2 separate regions of the Homo sapiens genome follow, and region 2 is linked to region 1. The links come from fine-mapping of genetic effects on gene expression. Tissue or cell type: whole blood. Region 1 holds a variant in brackets; the other region holds the start of a gene. All regions are shown on one strand. Distances are from middle to middle.

Region 1 (8,000 bases):
GGTGGCATCTGGCCACGGAGAGTGGGCCAGGCCCAACACACGCAGCCCAGACCTCTGTCCCGGGGCAGCCTCCCAGGAGGAGCCACCTCCAGCCCTCGCCACGTCACCTCCGGCGTCAGGACTGGCCAGGCCACATCCTCTCCAGACCTGGCCGTCCTTCGCTGCAACCTCGGAGAAGCCACTCTCCTCCTCACCGGCAGCACCTGCCCTGGGGACCCCTTCGTCCCACTCACCTCCAGCCTGGCTGGGACAGGGAGACGACTCTGGGCCAGGGGAACTGGCCCTCCCGGCACAGGCCCTGCTCAGGGCTGGGAGGGAGGCATGGCTCTGTTCTCCCTTTGGTGAACAAGGAAGCCGGCCTCGGGCACTGAGTCCTCCAGCAGGGCAGGCTGGCCAGACAGATGGGCAGGTGGACCCATGGAGGCCACAGCCCCCACTGTAGGAGGCCCCCTCGGCCAGCATCAGAGAACAAGTCCACCCCACTCCACGGACTGGAAGACCGAGACTCACAGGGGCCCGGGGCCACCCCTCAGAAGCCCACACACAGAGCCCAGCCCCACAGACACAGCTCACCCACTCAGCTCACAGGACTGAGCCTAGGATGGGCAGAGGGGACCTGGAAACCCACCCCAGCCCCAGCCCCGCCAACACCTCCTACCTGGAGGCTGCAACGAGAACTGTCAGGGCAGGAGGGGGGCTGCAGGCGCTGGGGCCGTAAATCAGGGCTCCCAGCAACCCCCAGGCCTGGAGGAATTCCAGGCCCCTCCACCGTTTCCTCCCAGCCAGAAGGGGTGTCCTGGGCCCACAACTCGGCTCCCTCCCCGTAGTGGGTACAGAGTGGATCATGAGCTTTCCTGGGCGAGGTCCCCTAAACCAATTCTCTCTCCCCTCTCCTCTCAGCCATCCCAGCTACAGGGAGGACACCGAGGCCAGGAAGGGGGGCGCGTCCATTGCCCCCCAGCTGCATGACGCAGAGTTGGACCCACGTCCAGGGCATGCCTCCGGGTGCAGCTGCTCTAAGCCCAGAGCACTGTGGCCTCTGGAGCACCACCAGTCTCCACAGCCCACTGGCCTGCCCCTGGGTCACCCCAGGCCCCGCCCAGGCCCCCTGGCAGCCTCTGCCTGCCCAAGATCCGCCACCACCCTCCACAGCACCGTGGCCTCCGGAGCACGGTCCGATGCAGGTGGAGGAGGCGCTCCCAGCCCTGGCAGCTACAGCCCCTCCCCAGCCACCAGCCTGGGCCAGGAGCTCCTGTCAAGAGCTGGACACCTGTCCTGGGTTGGTCCTGCCTCACCCAGCGCCCAGCCAGCTCCTCCTCAATGCCACCAGCCCAGCCCAGGACAGAGCTGAGCAAGCAGATGCTCAGGACCAGCCGGAGGGGCCACTTAGGCGGGCAGAACGCAGGGGCCAAGGAGCACCACAGGAAGATCCCAGCCCCGCTGGCGATGGGCACCTGCGTGCAGGCAGAGGGCAGCACATGGAACAGCAACACAGGCCTGCAACAGGACGCAGTGAGGGGGCGCAGGGCTGCACAGTGGTACACGTGTGTGTCCTGTGTGTGCACATGTGTGTCCTGTGTGTGCATGGGTGTGTCCTCCATGTGCACGGGTGTGTCCTGGGTGTGCACTCGTGTGTCCTGGGTGTGCACGTGTGTGTCCTATGTGTGCACTCGTGTGTCCTGGGTGCACACACGTGTGTCCTGTGTGTGCACGTGTCCTGGGTGTGCGTGCATGTGTCCTGGGTGTGCACGCATGTGTCCTGGGTGTGCACACGTGTGTCCTGCGTGTGCGCATGTGTGTCCTGGGTGTGCATCTGACTGGGGGCACCTGTGGGTTTCATCCCCCACCCCAGCCTGCCCCCAGGTCACACCAGGCTCTCCAGGCCCCCAACAGCCTCTGCCCACCTGAGGCCAAGCAACCCCGCAGGTGTCCTGCCCTGCTTACTCCCAGACCAGCCCCACCTCTGCAACCACCCCCCGGGGTCTCAGCCAACAGGAGGTTCCAGTCCCACAAGTTTCAGGAACCACCTGCGGCCAGTATGGGGCTGAGGGTTGGACCCTCGGCCTCACCCTGTCAGGCGCCCCCGCCTGCTCTTTGACATGGGGAGGGCACACAGGTGGGGGCACAGCCCGGTGAGTCCTCCGGACCCTGGGCAGAGGGGCAGGATGCAGGGGCAGAATGCTGACCCCCATCAGCAGCCACCAGGATGGTGTCCTGAGCCTGAGGGTCCCAGGCTCTCATGGCCCTTCCCCGTGCTCCACAGCACTCCAGCCGCCTGCCTAGTCCATGTGGGTCCCAGAGGAGCTGCTGGGCTCTGGAATCATCTTGGGAAAGGCAGGCAGAGGCTGGCCGAGGGTGGGGTAATTCCTGCCTTCCTGGGAATGGGGACAGCCTCAGGGGAGCCCTGGAGATGGATTTTCCCCGATTTACCCAGCTCCCCAGCTCCTCCCAGCAAGATGCTGGGGTGTGGGCTGCTGTGAGACTCCCCATCCCGCGGACCCTGCCTGCCTGCCTTCAGGGTCCCCTGAGTGTTACTAAACAGAGGGGCAAAGCGTGGCCCCCAACGCCCTGAAAGGGAGCCCGCGCTGCGGCCCCAGTGCGGAATCAGGTGCTCAGATCGTTCTGCCGGAGCCTCCACGTCTCTTCCAATGTGCACAGGAAGGGACCCCGGCAGTGTCTCAAACCTGCCATGGGGAGTCTCCTTTCAAAGTAGACTCGAAGCTGAGGGTGACTTGGAAGAATATCGGGCGGACAGGACCACGGTGGCCCGAGGTCCTGCGGGCAGGCTGAGTGTTGGCCGGAGGTAATTCGGGCCTGAAGGTCTCTGTCCCTCCTGCACTGAGCTGTGTGCTGCCCTCTGGGTGGGGCAGCAAGGAAGAGGCGCCCCTGTCGCCCGGGTGCTCCTGCTCACACCAGGGAAAGGGGCAGAGACAGAGAGGGCCCCTCTGTGGTCTGACCCCACCGGAGGAGATGGTCTCCTGGACGCCAAGGCAGGCCACACACGACGTCTGCTTCCTCGGGGGTCTGTGGCCTTCCACCTGACCGCCAGGCACATTCCCGGTCACTCTGCTTTCTGCTCCCCCGTTTGTCTCTCTGCCCTGGGAGAGTCGGGGCAGCTGCAGCCCTTGTGGGACCAGAGCAGGGCTGAGGCACGGTGCGGAGACAGGCAGGGGACGCCTGCCATAGTGGAGTGAGGGTCGCCGAGGCCAGCTGCTGCAGGAAGGGAATGCCGGCTCTGAGTACCACCAATGGCACAGCTGAAAACTGCAGCGATGTCCTCTCCCGCAGCCTGGAGACAGGCCTAAAATCGAGGTGTGAGCAGAGCTGTGCTCCCTCCGGAAGCCCCAGGTGAGGGTCCTTCCCGCCTCTTCCAGCTTCTGGGCCCCTGGCCGCTCTGCCCTGCATCTCTGCCCTGCCGCTCTGCCCTGTGTCTCTGCCCTGCCGCTCTGCCCTACGTCTCTGCCCTGCCGCTTTGCCCTGCGTCTCTGCCCTGCCGCTTTGCCCTGCGTCTCTGCCCTGCCGCTTTGCCCTGCGTCTCTGCCCTGCCGCTTTGCCCTGCGTCTCTGCCCTGCCGCTTTGCCCTGCGTCTCTGCCCTGTGTCTCTGCCCTGCGTCTCTGCCCTGCGTCTCTGCCCTGGCCGCTCTACGCTGTGTCTCTGCCCTGCATCTCTGCCCTGGCCGCTCTGCGCTGCGTCTCTGTCCTACGTCTCTGCCCTGGCCGCTCTGCGCTGTGTCTCTGCCCTATGTCTCTGCCCTGCGTCTCTGCCCTGTGTCTCCTCTGTCTCCCTCCAGGGAGGCTTGCCCGGGCGGGGCTGCTCCTGCCTGCTGGACCAAGCCCCGCACCCACAGCCCTGAACTGCTCACTGCCGGCGCTCCTGGGACCACCCTGGAACCCAGCCTAGGACGCACTCAGCCAGCGTCTGTCTCTCCATGTGCCTGGAGACCAGCAAAGCCAAAAGCCTGTGGCAAGGCACTCACAGGACTGAGGCCGCCTGCCCCGCCTGCCACACGTCTCTCAGAGGTGGGGGTCTCATTTTGCCACAGACACCGAAGCCACAACAGTGCAGGGCAACCTGATCAGCCCTGTCCCGGGATGGGGCCACGGCCATGTGGACACACAGTGGGCGGCCCCCGAGTGGGAACAGCCTCAGCTTGGCCCGTTTGGTTGGAGCCACCCGGGGGCCACACGCTGCAGCCCCTCCTGCCCAGCGGCTGCCGCTGGGTTCCGTGTCACAGCC[A/G]CACACGTTTCCACACATTCTTCCGCTTGGGAATGGGCAGTACTTTGCACGATGGGGTCACCACCGTGTGGCCGCCTGGGCCCTCCACTTTCACGGGGCATGTCCTTCAGGGCCCCTCCGAGCCCGCCGCTGCCTCTGCCCGGCCTCCCACCAGCCACTTTTATGGGTTCACAATCACAGACGGGTCGCTGCGACGCCTGGCCCCTCCCCCAGCCATGGGGAGGACTTGCTGAACAGGGGGCCGGAAAGGGGCCCTGTCTCTCCCGGAGATGCCGTGAATGCAGCCTGGCTTCCCTGCGGCTGTGCCTGGGCAGCTGCCGGGTAAGGAAGCAGAAGCGGGCTGGGACCAGACACCAGGCTCCCCACCTGTGCAGCTGTGTCCCCCTCCCTGCCGCCCTTGCCACAGAGCAGCGCTTCCTGGTGGCCTTTTCCCCCCACCACGCCCCCCACACTCCCCTCAGGCCGGACCCCTCCATCCACAGTGGACACAGTAGCCTGGGAGCGTTGGATCCCCCACTCAGCTGAGAGGCACAGAGGCAGCCCAGGACCCTGCAGAGGTCCCCGCATAGCTTCTGCACTGCTCGGGGGGCCCTGCTCGGCCCCAGAGGCCCACTTGCAAGCATCATCAACGTGCAAGGCCGGCCCGGCCCCCGCCCCACACGAGGGGTACCTCCTCTTCTCCTAGGTCCCTGTGGGCCTTCGTCGCTGGCTGGGCTAGAAGGGCTCCCACGCCCAGCCCCTCCTGGTGTCCCTGGCTCCTCCAGACCTGTCTCCCCTCTCCCTCACACACTGAGTTTCAGGATCCCTGTGCCCCATGCCCCTTCCTGGGGACTCCGAGCGCCCCATCGCACCCCAGAGCCCCCACACTTGCTCCTCCGCCAGCACTGGGGCCGGGCTCCCCGCTACTTGCAGGCTGTGTGGTCGCCCGGCCTCCTGGAGGCACTTTGCCTCCCTTGGGAACAACCTGCTCCTCTCTTTTTCCACCCCAGAGCCTGGGGCTGCCTGGGATTGACAGGTGGGTGCAGATGGGAGCTCTCGGGCTCCTGCCCACCCAAATTCCTGGCACCGGGGCAGCTCCTGGGCCAACCAGCCCTGCCTCGCTGGCGTCTCCCTCTGCCAGCCCCACGCTGACACTTCGCCCTCCTCTCAGCAACGTGCTTCCTGCTAGCATCCTCTGAGCACCTGCTGCGTGCAGGGCCTGCCCTGGCTGCCTCCCCACTGCTCACAGACCCCGGTGTGCTGGCCCCTGCCCCATCCTCCAGGCCTGGAGTCTCCCTGACTCATTCCCCCGAATGCTCCCTTCCTTTATTTATTTATTTATTTATACCGATTCTCCTGCCTCAGCCTCCCGAGTAGCTGGGATTACAGGCGCCCACCACCACGCCTGGCTAATTTTTGTATTTTTAGTAGAGATGGGGTTTTACCATGTTGGCCAAGCAGGTCTCGAACTCCTGCCCTCAGGAGATCCACTTGCTTTGGCCTCCCAAAGTGCTGGGATTACAGGCGCCCACCACTACACCCGGCTAATTTTTGTACTTTTAGTAGACACAGGGTTTTGCCACGTTGGCCAGGCTGGTCTCAAACTCATGACCTAATATGATCCACCCGCCTCGGCCTCCCAGAGTGCTGGGATGACAAGCATGAGCCACTGCACCTGGCCCCTTCCTTTATTTAAATCACAGCCCAAAGCCACCTCTCAAAGCCCGATTCTGGCTTGCCATCCGGCCTGGTTCATGGACCCTCAGCCTCTCACCACCCCTGAGATCTCCACAGTCTCCTTGGCAGACGCCCACCTGAGGCAGCAGCCCTGACCACTTCTTTCCAGCTCTCTGTGTTCTCCAGCTCCCTGGGTGACCCCCTAAAACCAGATCACTCTCTCCAGTGTCTGGGGTCCCCATCTGTGACAGGTCTCTGGTGTGGATGAGTCTGGGGGCTCCCCCATCTCTCTGGACCTCAACTTCCTGAACTACAACTGGGCACTGTAGTGGGTTGAACAGTGTCCCCCAGGACTCACGTCCACAGAGCCTCAGGACGTGCCTTTATTTGGAAACAGCGTCATGGCAGGTGTAACTGGTTCCAGGATGGGGTCAGTGGGTCTTAGCCCGAGTGCCCGTATAAGGAGGAGAGGAGAGGCTCACAGGAGGACCCACGAACACGCAGGCAGAGCGATGTGGCCGCCAGCCAGGGAGCACGGGCAGCAGCAGGTGCTGGCAGAGGCCAGGAGGATCCTCCCTGTCTCAGGAGAAACCAGCCCTGCTGGCCGCTGGACTTTGGCCCTCTGGCCCCCAGAGCTGTGAGGGGTCCTCTGGCCTCCAGAGCTGTGAGGGGCTCTCTGTTGTCCTGAGCCTCCTAGTTGGTGGTGCTTCGTATGGCAGCTCCAGACACAAACGCAGGTGCCCTCATCATGGCCACCGCCCCGTGGGTCCTCGCTGGAGACTCTCAGAGGCCATCCCCTCCCACGGGCCCCAGGTCCCTGCCCTCTGTGCCCCGTCTGTGAAGCGGAAGGTTGGAAGACGAGGTCATTTCCAAAACTCGGCCCAGCTTGGAGACTGCCTGGTTGGCACCAACGTCCACCCCCATCCATCACCCCGCGAGGTCCTGGGGCCTCAGCCATCACGGTCCCCCTTGAAGGGGCTTCCTGGGTCCTCCAAGGATGTCCTGGCTTTCCACTGCCCAACCGGGAAGCCTGGGCCCGGGGACTTGGTGATGAGGAGAGGGGAATGAAGGGCTGGAGCTCCACCAGGGACAGAGATGGGGTGTACCAGGAAACGGGGCCAGGGGCCGTGGGGTCAGCCACAGGGGTTCAGACAGCAGGGATCCCTGCTAGAGTCTGGAGTCCCAGGTGGGAGCATCCCAGGAACCCCCACCCCTCCTGGGCCATGGGAAGGACGCTGCCTGCTGGGAGTGACAGCACTTGGCACCAAGCTGGCCAGGTTCCCCTCAAGGGCACGGCACAGCCGAGCAGGAGTGGGAGAAGGATGCGGGGCTGTAATAGGGAGGGATGGGGCACGGTCGGCTCCTGGCTTCTGGGCCAGAGAGTGTGACCCTTGGCTGGGTCCCAGTTACCTGGCAGGGCTGCTGCAGCTCCAGCCACGTCCGTCCTGCAGGGCGCCCACACCCTTTTCCCTGAGCTGGATGCCCCAGAGAGCTATTCCAGGCGCCTGGTGGAGACATGACCCGTCTGGCCAGACCGAGGCACAGCCACCACCCATGGCCTCGCCTGTGTGCCCTGGTGACTCACACCCACCGGAGCAGAGAGGCACCAGGATCCCCCTTGGCCATGCCTGGTGTTCGGGGAGGAGAGAACAGGAGCTGCCACCTGGGAAATGCCTCCTCCAGCCTCCCTGGGCCGCACCCCAGAGCCCTAAATAAATGCCTTTGCAGGTCTGCTCCCAAGAGGCACGAGGACTCCTGCCATGTTCCCTGAGACATGACTTAGCGGGCTGGCCACCATGGCCTGTCTTGCCACGATCCCAGGGCCCAGCCCTCTGTCCCCCAGCACCAAAGCCTGTCCCCATCTAGAAGAAGGCACTGGACTCGCTGTCCGCCACCCCTCCCGCCTTGCTCCCCTCCATCCTGCTCCGGGAAGGCTCCAGGCCCTCACATCCCACGGCCATGGAGCCTTGGGGAACCCGCTGCCCCGGTCTGGAACGTGGAGCAAGCTCAGGCGACGGTTTCCGCGGACAGGACAGACGGGGTGGCCGGATCCCCTGCACAGCTCCAAGTTTGGGTGACGGTTTCCGTGGACAGGGCGGACAGGGTG
Region 2 (8,000 bases), 30 kb after region 1:
AGCCAGGGTAGGCACCATAGTAGCTGGAGGCCTGCAGGTCGCCATAGTCGCCCTGTGAGCCGGCGAAGGGGCCGGCGGGGGCGGCCGGGGTGGCGCTGGACTGGCCGCTGCAGGAACCGTAGTCGGGCGAGCCTCGGGGCTGGTCGCCGTAGTGGCCGGGGCTCGGCTGCTCCGTCTTGATGTGCGGCCGTGGGGGACCCGTCTCGGTGGGCGACGCGGAGGCCGACGGGGCACTCTTGTGGGCCCACACGGGGGACGCCCCGGCGTGGAAGTAGGCGCCCCCATAGGCCTGGCCCGGCTCGGGTGGGGCGGGGCCGCCCAGGGGCAGGTACTGGTCGAACTCGTGGACGTCGAAGGCGTCCATGGTGCCCATGACCTCGCTGCTGAGCTCCGAGATGTCCACGTTGCTGAAGTCGATGTTCTGGCGCCCGCTGTCCACCGGCCGGCGTCCCTCCAGCTTCAGCTCCGGCTTGGCGCCCGCCTGCTGCAGCTCCGTCTTGGGGGTGGTGGGCGGGGTGGGCGGCCCGTGGGTCTGCCCTGGGGACAGGAGAGCAGGCTTCAGGGATGAATGCCCCTTCTGTGGGGCGGGTGGGGCCGGCCAGGCTGGAAGGGGAGGGACGCCCGCGCTAACTGCCAGGGGGATCAACGGCTTTTTGTTTCTTTACATTTCCCAGAAATTCCAGCAAAGTCAGACCTAGACCTCACTCCTCGGCCGAGAAAATTCCATGAAGCGCTGTGCTATGAGAAGACCCGAGGCCCCTCCCAGAGACCAAGGTGGGGGGAAGAAGCCGACAGGCCCAGCCTGGCCAGAGCTGGGGTTTACAGGGCGCTGGGGGACCACACAGACCCTGTTCCTCCCCGGGCCAGCCAAGCACTCTGAGGCTGGCGGGCGTCAGCCAGCCTGACCGAGGCCCCGGCAGGACTCCACCCTGTCAGTCTGGCCCTGAAGCTGGGGCTGCTGAGTGCCGTGTGGGCAGCAGCTCGGTGTGGGAAGAGGAGCCCGCATTGGACTGAGTCTTGCTGAAAACACCACCTCTCGGGGTCCCTGCCAAGCAAAGCTGTCAGCCCCTCAGCACTCAAGGTGGCTAAGCAGGTCCCTCGTGCACCAAAAACAGGGGCGGCCGGGGCCTTGGGAGCTTTTTCAGGGAACCCGGGGAAGGCCCGGTTCTCTCGAGGGCGCCTGCCCCCCTCCACCATCATGCACCCTTCTCAGCCAGAAACCCCACAGCTGCCTCCCATACAGGGACCCTCAGATATGCGGGGGGCCTGGAGCCCACCTGTGTGGTCGCCATGGTGGTGCCCATCTCCAAGCCCTGCTTCAGCCTTGTACACGGCACCGCCGCCAGGGTGGGGTCCCAGCTCCGCGCCCGAGTCGGAGTCGCTGTGGCCGGCTTTGGCGCTCTTCCTGCGCCGTGGCTGGTACTTGTAGTCGGGGTGGTCCTTCTTGTGCTGCACGCGAAGGCGCTCTGCCTCCTCCACGAAGGGCCGCTTCTCGCTCTCGCTCAGCAAGCTGCAGCACAGGGCAGAGGCAGGGATGGCCAGGGCGCCCACTGTGCCCTCGGCGCAGGCACACACCACAGGGGGAACCGGCAGCAGAGGCCGGGGCCAGGAGGCTCTGACCAGGGAAACCCGCCTGCCGTGCGCTCCGGAGCCTCCCGTGGCACCAGGCAGTACACTCCTCTGGGAGAACCGGCCGGCGCCTGTTTGGGAAGGTTGGTATGCTTACGACAGCCAAAGAAGAACAAGCCCCACGCCTCCCATCTTCCTCCTTCTATTTCCCCCTATTCCGGGCCTGCTGTTCCCTCCCTCTGGGGCTTTCTAAGGGAGGCGGGGGAGGCGGGCAGGACCCAGCCGGCGGTGGACAAAAGCGAGGCTTCCCGGGAACGGTGCCGGCCTTCGGCGGGCAGCTGGGCTGCTGTCCCTCCATTCCCAGACACCCAGAAGCCCTGGCAGGGCCCAGGCGCCCGTCCTCACTGAGCCACAGGACACACTCCTTGGGACTCTTCCCGAGGCTCACCTCCAACCGCCTGTGCGGCAGGACTTGGGGGAGCAGGGGCCTGCCGTCCACAGCGCCCCGTGGCTGCGCCCTAGATCCAGACAGAAGGCAGGAGGTGCAAATACGCAAGCTCCAAGCTCCCTTCTTCCAGGTGAGGAGCAGGATACGGGAACCAGAGCCCCAAACCAAGAGAACCATTTGAAACCCAACCAGAGGACACTCGGTGGGGGCGGCCTGTCCTGAGCAACAAGTTCTTCACTCTGCAGTCCTAATTTCTGGAAAACTGACCGGCCCCACCACGCCAAGGCGTGCACACGGCGCACCCCGTCATCTCCACTCCTGCCCTCCCTGCTTCGGACCGAGGGTGTCCAGGAGAGGGAGAAACTGCGGGGAGGGTACTCGCAGGCAAACCTGCTGCCCACCCATCCGCCTGCCGCACTCCCTCCCCATGGGTGGTCCAGGAGCTAGAGGAGCTGAGCCCTTTCTAAGGAGGGAGCACCTCCAGAGAGCCGCATGCAACTTGCTGTCGTGCCGGGCGTGCCTCCCGGGGCTGGGGCCACTCGCAACGGCTGGAGGGCACGTCGGGGTGCCAGCCATGGCCCTCCGCAGGGTGTTCCCCGCCAGGAGAACTGGCTCCAGAGCGCACCCGCCACGAGGGTGCACACCCCAGGCGCTGCCCTCCGCGGATCCCGACTCCCATAGCTGGCGCCGGACCCCGGCTGGCCAGAGGATGTTTTTCCACTGGGACCCGCCCTGACACCCGCCCGGGGTGCAGAGCCCGGAGCCTGCGTGTGGCCACCACCTCCGCGAGCTCTGCGCCCTCCAGGCCCCCGCTCGCAGTCCGAGACCAGGGGCGGCCAAGGTCCCGAACCCCGCCCCCGGGGCGCCGGCACTCACCGCCACAGCTTGCCCAGCGTCTTGCTGAGCTCGGCGTTGTGCAGGTGCGGGTACTGGTCGGCCAGCTTGCGGCGCGCCGCCTGCGCCCACACCATGAATGCGTTCATGGGCCGCTTCACATGCGGCTTGGCTTTGAGCGCGCCGCCGCCGCCGCCGCGCACCGGCATGGGCACCAGACTCCAGTCGTAGCCCTTGAGCACCTGCGACACGGCGTCGCGGATGCAGGCCGGGAAGCGCTCGTCCGCCGCCTCCGCCGGGTCGCCCCGGGCGCCCCCCACCGCGACCCCCGCGCGGCCCAGGCCCTCGGAGCCGGCGGGAGACGGCGGCGCGTCCGAGTCCGAGTCCTCCACGTGCGACATGGAGCTGGCGGTGCCGGACGGGCTGCAGGGCGGCTGGGAGCGGGCCTCGCTCATGTCCAGCATCGGGGCCGCGCGCGGAGGGGCGCGCACAGGAGACGCGCACCGGGGCCGGCGCCCGGGGCTGCCCTGCGGTCGCTCCGGGACCCGAGGTCGCCGCGCGGTGGCCCCGACCCTCGCCCCTGCCGCCGCCGCCGCCGCCGCCGAGGCTCGGGTCCCGCTGCGGGACCCGCAACAAGTTTCTTTAAGCGGCGGCCCCGCGGCCCCGCCCCGCGCCCGGCTACCCATTGGCGGAGCGCGCCCCGATCCCCCGGAGGCGGAGCCCGGCCGCCCCCGCCCCCCCACCCATAAAGAAAGCTCCGCGGCTCTCGCCGCGCCCCCGCCTGCCCCGCCCGGCGCCGCACCACGTGGGCCAGGCGCCCCACGCCTGGAGCTCCCCTCTCTGGAGCCCCGGGAAAGGAAGCGGGGCAGGGAGGCCGGGTGGGAGCAGGGGGGTCTCCGGCGCTTCCTCTCCTCTGCGGGCGCCGCGCGGCTCCTGAGAGTCCGCCCCCCGTCCTGACGCTCAGCTAGGAAGCGGGTCCTCGGGCCCCTCCCCCGACACACACACACACACACACACACACACACACACACACACACACTCTCTCTCTCTCTCTCTCTCTCTCTCTCTCTCTCTCTCTCTCTCACACACACACACACACACACAGCCCGTCTCGCGCCTGAGGTCTCGCCCGCAGGCCGGTGGCGCGGGGTCAGCTGCTGCCTGCGGTCCAGGACAGGGTCGGTTCCGCCGCGCAGCGCCCAGGCCCAGCTCGTCCAGAGTCTGCGGACAGCGCACGTCCAGGTAACGCGCTTCAAGGGGCCGCGGCTCGGAGCTGGGGGACCCCGGGCCGCCCTGCCCATACGAGTGCGAGCGTGGAGAGCGCGGGCGGGGGCGCGGTCCCGGGGGCCGGCCAGCTGGAGGGGGCGGGAGCGCTGGGCGGGGCCTGCGCTGACCCCGGCGCTGAGTCCCTGGGGCCGCCGGGCGGATGGCGTGGCCGGACGCGGGGGCCCCGGGCCTTCCGGGCGTGACCTAGGGCTCGGGGGCGGGGAGGCCCCTCCGGCGGGGCGGCCCTGGGTGGTCCGGCAGAGGCGGAGGCCGCTCCGAGCCTGTGAGCCCTGGGCGCCTGCGGAGGCGGGGAGAGGGCGGGGTGTGCCGCCCTGGTGGGGACCGCGGGGTCGGAGAGGGGACATTGCCCCCCCCGAGGCGAACGTCCAACCGCGGGTCCGGGTCCCCGCCCAAGGCCGCCCCGCGAGGTGGCCTCGGCCCGGCCGTCCCCGAGGGTGGCTCGGATCCTTTCAACCAGCGCGCTGGAGGCGAAGGGGCTGCGCCATTCCGGGTCAGGCAGCCAACGCGGGACACGCGCGTCTCCGAGCTTGCGGCCCGCGAAACCCGGGTGACCTACCGCGCCGGTGCCCTCAAAGCCCCCACGCCCGGGCCGGTGGCCGCTGCAGCCACTGAGCCACGCGGTCTCCCCGGCCCGGTCGGCAGAAGGAGCTGGTCCGTTACTAGAAAAGTCCAGATGCAAAGTCGGGGGTCGTGCTGCCGCTTCCTGCCAGCGCACCGCACCCACCTGGGGCCGCCACCGACCGCACAGGACGCGCCTCCTACCCCCTGTTCTGGCCCGGCCGAGAGCTGGTGCCCCCAGCGGCCGCCCGCCCCCGTCCGCAGACCCCGGGGCCCTTGCTGCTTTGCATTGGGAACAACCGGAGCCAGGCCCGGAGCTGAGGGGGCCAGGGCCTTTGGAGGAAGCATTGGCCTCCAGGCTGAAGAGCAAGGGCCGTGTCACCTGCCCGGAGGGCGGTCTCATCTCTGCAGCCAGGTCAGAGGAAGCAGCGGTGGGGAGACGGAGTGCGCGAGTTGGGAGGCTCCACGCATCGTAGGTGGAGAGCTGGCTGCCAGCCTGGCCTGCCCTCTCTTCCCCGTCCCACCATCTCGCTTGGCTCCGGCACCTGCCTGGGAAGACCCACACCTCCGTCTGCAGTGCCTCTTCCCCCTGGAGGCCCTGCCCTCCGCTCGGGGTCCCCGCATCCTTCCGTGGCCCTCAGAGCATCGCCTGGGGCGCCCGCGGAACTCATCTGTTAGGCCTGGGATGCAGGCAGGCAGAAGTGGGGGTTTAAGTGGAAGCAGTGAGGGTGGGGGTCCGGTCCAAACTGTGCCACCTTCCACCCCCTGCCCCTGGGAGAGCAGACATCGCCCACTCGGGCTCACAGTGCCATCCGGGTGAGGACCTCCGTGGAGAGCTCTCTTTGCCAAAGAAAAGCAGTTGCATTAGGTCTGCGAGCAGGCAGGGTGGCCTCTTCCTGGCTCCCCATCCACCAAGGAAGCTTCAAGTCCCTGGGACACAGGTGGGGAACTCCAGCACCCCTGGAGGAAGGGAGACTGAGGTTGGGGAGTGGCATCCAGGCCCTGACTCTGGGGCACGGTGGTCTGTGCAACTGAGACCCTGCCTCAGGCTCCAACAGCGCCTGCTCCTTTCCCCAGGTTGCAGTGATCACCAGGGGAGGTGCTGGGCGTGCAGGCTGCCACAGGAGGGGTGGGGAGGTGGGGAGTCTCTGTGGCGGGGTGGTGGGGGCCTAGGCCAGTCAGCTGAGGACGTGTTGGTGCACTCCCGGGAGGGCGGTATGTGGGTGAGGATCCCCATGCAGAGTGGTGCCCACAAACCCCCCTTCCAGAGTCATCTCTGGTCCACCTTGAAGTCCCCAGGAAAATGACCTCGTCCTCCGCGGGTGTGAGCCACTAGGCCTGAGAGGACGCCGGGACGGAGCTTTCAGAGAGGGAGGTGTCGGGATGGCTTGAGGGTCACCAGGTATTAATTAAGCACTTGCTGTGTGCCAGGCACTTTCCCACACAGGATGGAGCCGGGCCACCCTCACAGCTCCTGCCCTGCAGACGCTGGCCTTGTGGAGGGAGGCAGGCAGCAGGTAACTCCAAAAGCACCTCTCAGAGGCGGGGACTTCAGGAAGGATGGTCTGGGAAAGCATCTTTGGTGTCATTTAAGCTGAGCCCTGAAGCTTCTGATCTCCTGCAGGGAGAGGCCAGCGTGTTCCCTGGGGAAGCTAGAGCAGAGTGTCTGATGACAAGAGATGGACCCGGGGGTGGAGAGTGGAGGGGCAGCCATCAGAGCCACCTCTGAGTCCACCTGATGGGCCCATGTCTTCATCCAGGGGGGAGCTGCACACACACCCTCCTCCCCTGTCTCCCATCCCTGCCCCACCCCTTCAGCTGGGGCCTGCTCCGCCGTGTCTGCATGGCCCCACCCACCCTGACCTCACCACCTGCTAGTGGGCCTTGCAGTTTCAGGGGGAGTGTACGTTTCAAGTATACCCTGATGGGGGAATCTGGACCAGGGCTGTCCCCTGGGCCGTGAGTGCCGGGCGTGGAGAGCTGGTGTAGATGACATTTGTAGCTCCACATGCCCTGGCCTGGGCGCCAAGGACAGCCGCAGAGAAGAATGTGGGTGGACAGGCTCTGCTGCCCATGAGATGGTGCAGGGATGGCCTGGGGGATGCTTCCAGATGAGAGACCACCCCACCCTACCCGTGGCTCCTAGGGATGGCGACCCCGGAGGCGCGTGTGTTCATGTGTGTGTGTGGTGTGTGTTTGTATGGTATGTAATGTGTGATATGTGTATGGGATGTATGTATGGGGTGTGTTTATGGTGTGTGTGGTGCGTGTATAGTGTGTATGGTGCGTGTATAGTGCGTATGGTGTGTATGGTGTGTGGTGTGTATGTGTATGATGTGTGTGATGTATGTGTGTGGGGTGCGTGTATGGTGTGTGGTGTGTGTGTGTGTGTATGATGTATGTGTGTGGTGTGGTGTGTGTATGGTGTGTGGTGTGTGTGTGTCCGTGTGTGTTTGGTGTGGTGTATGTGTGCAGGGTGTGGGTGTGTTTGTGTGTGTGTGATGTGTGGTGTGCGTGTGTATGATGTGTGTGTGTGGTGTGTGTGTGTGCGTGTATGTGTGTGGTGGGGTGTGTGTATGGTGTGTGGTGTGTGTGCGTGTGTATGATGTATGTGTGTGGTATGTGTGTGGTGTGTGTGTTTAGTGTGTGGTGTATGTGTGCAGGGTGTGGGTGTGTTTGTGATGTGTGGTGTGCATGTGTATGGTGTGTGTGTGTGTGTGGTGTGTGTTGGGCCCAGGGCACGAGGAGGAAGCAGGGCTGCCCAGGGAAATGCCACCCTGGAGAGGCCCCTGTCCCTCCCTCTCCGTCCTTCCCTGTGCCCCTCCGTCCCTCCCTGCCCGTCCTCCCCGTCCCCCTCCATCCACCCCCAACCCGGCCCTCCTCCTGCGGCAGGCAGCCCATCTTTTGTGCGGCCTCTGAGAAGCACAGGGAGGGCCCGGCGGGCGTGAACCCGCTGGCAGCCGGTGTGTGCACAGCCTTGGCCCGGGCCTCCCAGCCCCTGCATCCCGAGCACCCGTGGGGCAGTTGGCAGCGTCCTGGCACGGCCTGGGAGATTAATTGGTGCTTTTAATGACGGCTGGTCTGGCAGAGACAGAGTGACTACAGGCTGGGCCGGCGCAGGCTGTGAGCAGAGGCTGGGAAAGGCCCCGCCCCCGGACGGGTCTCCAGGGGAGAGGAGGGGTTCGCAGGACCCCTCTCAAGACCCCCTTCGGGAGTCAGCTTCTTGGCCACGCACACTTGGAGCTCTGGGCTGGGTTGCAGCTCCCTGTACTTCACTGTCTCGGGTGCTGGCAGTGCCAGCTGG

The links. PIP is the estimated chance that this variant, and not a neighbour inherited with it, causes the effect.
Region 2: CEROX1 starts here. The variant in region 1 is fine-mapped to the expression of CEROX1 in whole blood (TOPMed, PIP above 0.99).

The regions. Positions count from the first base shown.
Region 1 is chr16:1,006,924-1,014,923 of GRCh38, reverse strand. No RefSeq gene overlaps it. Among named protein-coding and RNA genes, the nearest start is that of SOX8, 29 kb to the right of the region's middle. RefSeq lists a silencer at 367-568 and an enhancer at 4,322-4,941. The variant A/G (reference allele first, on the strand shown) is at 4,238.
Region 2 is chr16:977,238-985,237 of GRCh38, reverse strand. It overlaps CEROX1 (cytoplasmic endogenous regulator of oxidative phosphorylation 1), which reads left to right and starts at 3,625. Exons shown (of 3, transcript NR_164343.1): 1 at 3,625-5,637; 2 at 6,128-6,213. It overlaps SOX8 (SRY-box transcription factor 8), which reads right to left and starts at 3,468. Exons shown (of 3, transcript NM_014587.5): 1 at 2,894-3,468; 2 at 1,278-1,510; 3 at 1-537. The coding sequence starts at 3,315. It also overlaps a transcript of LMF1 not described here.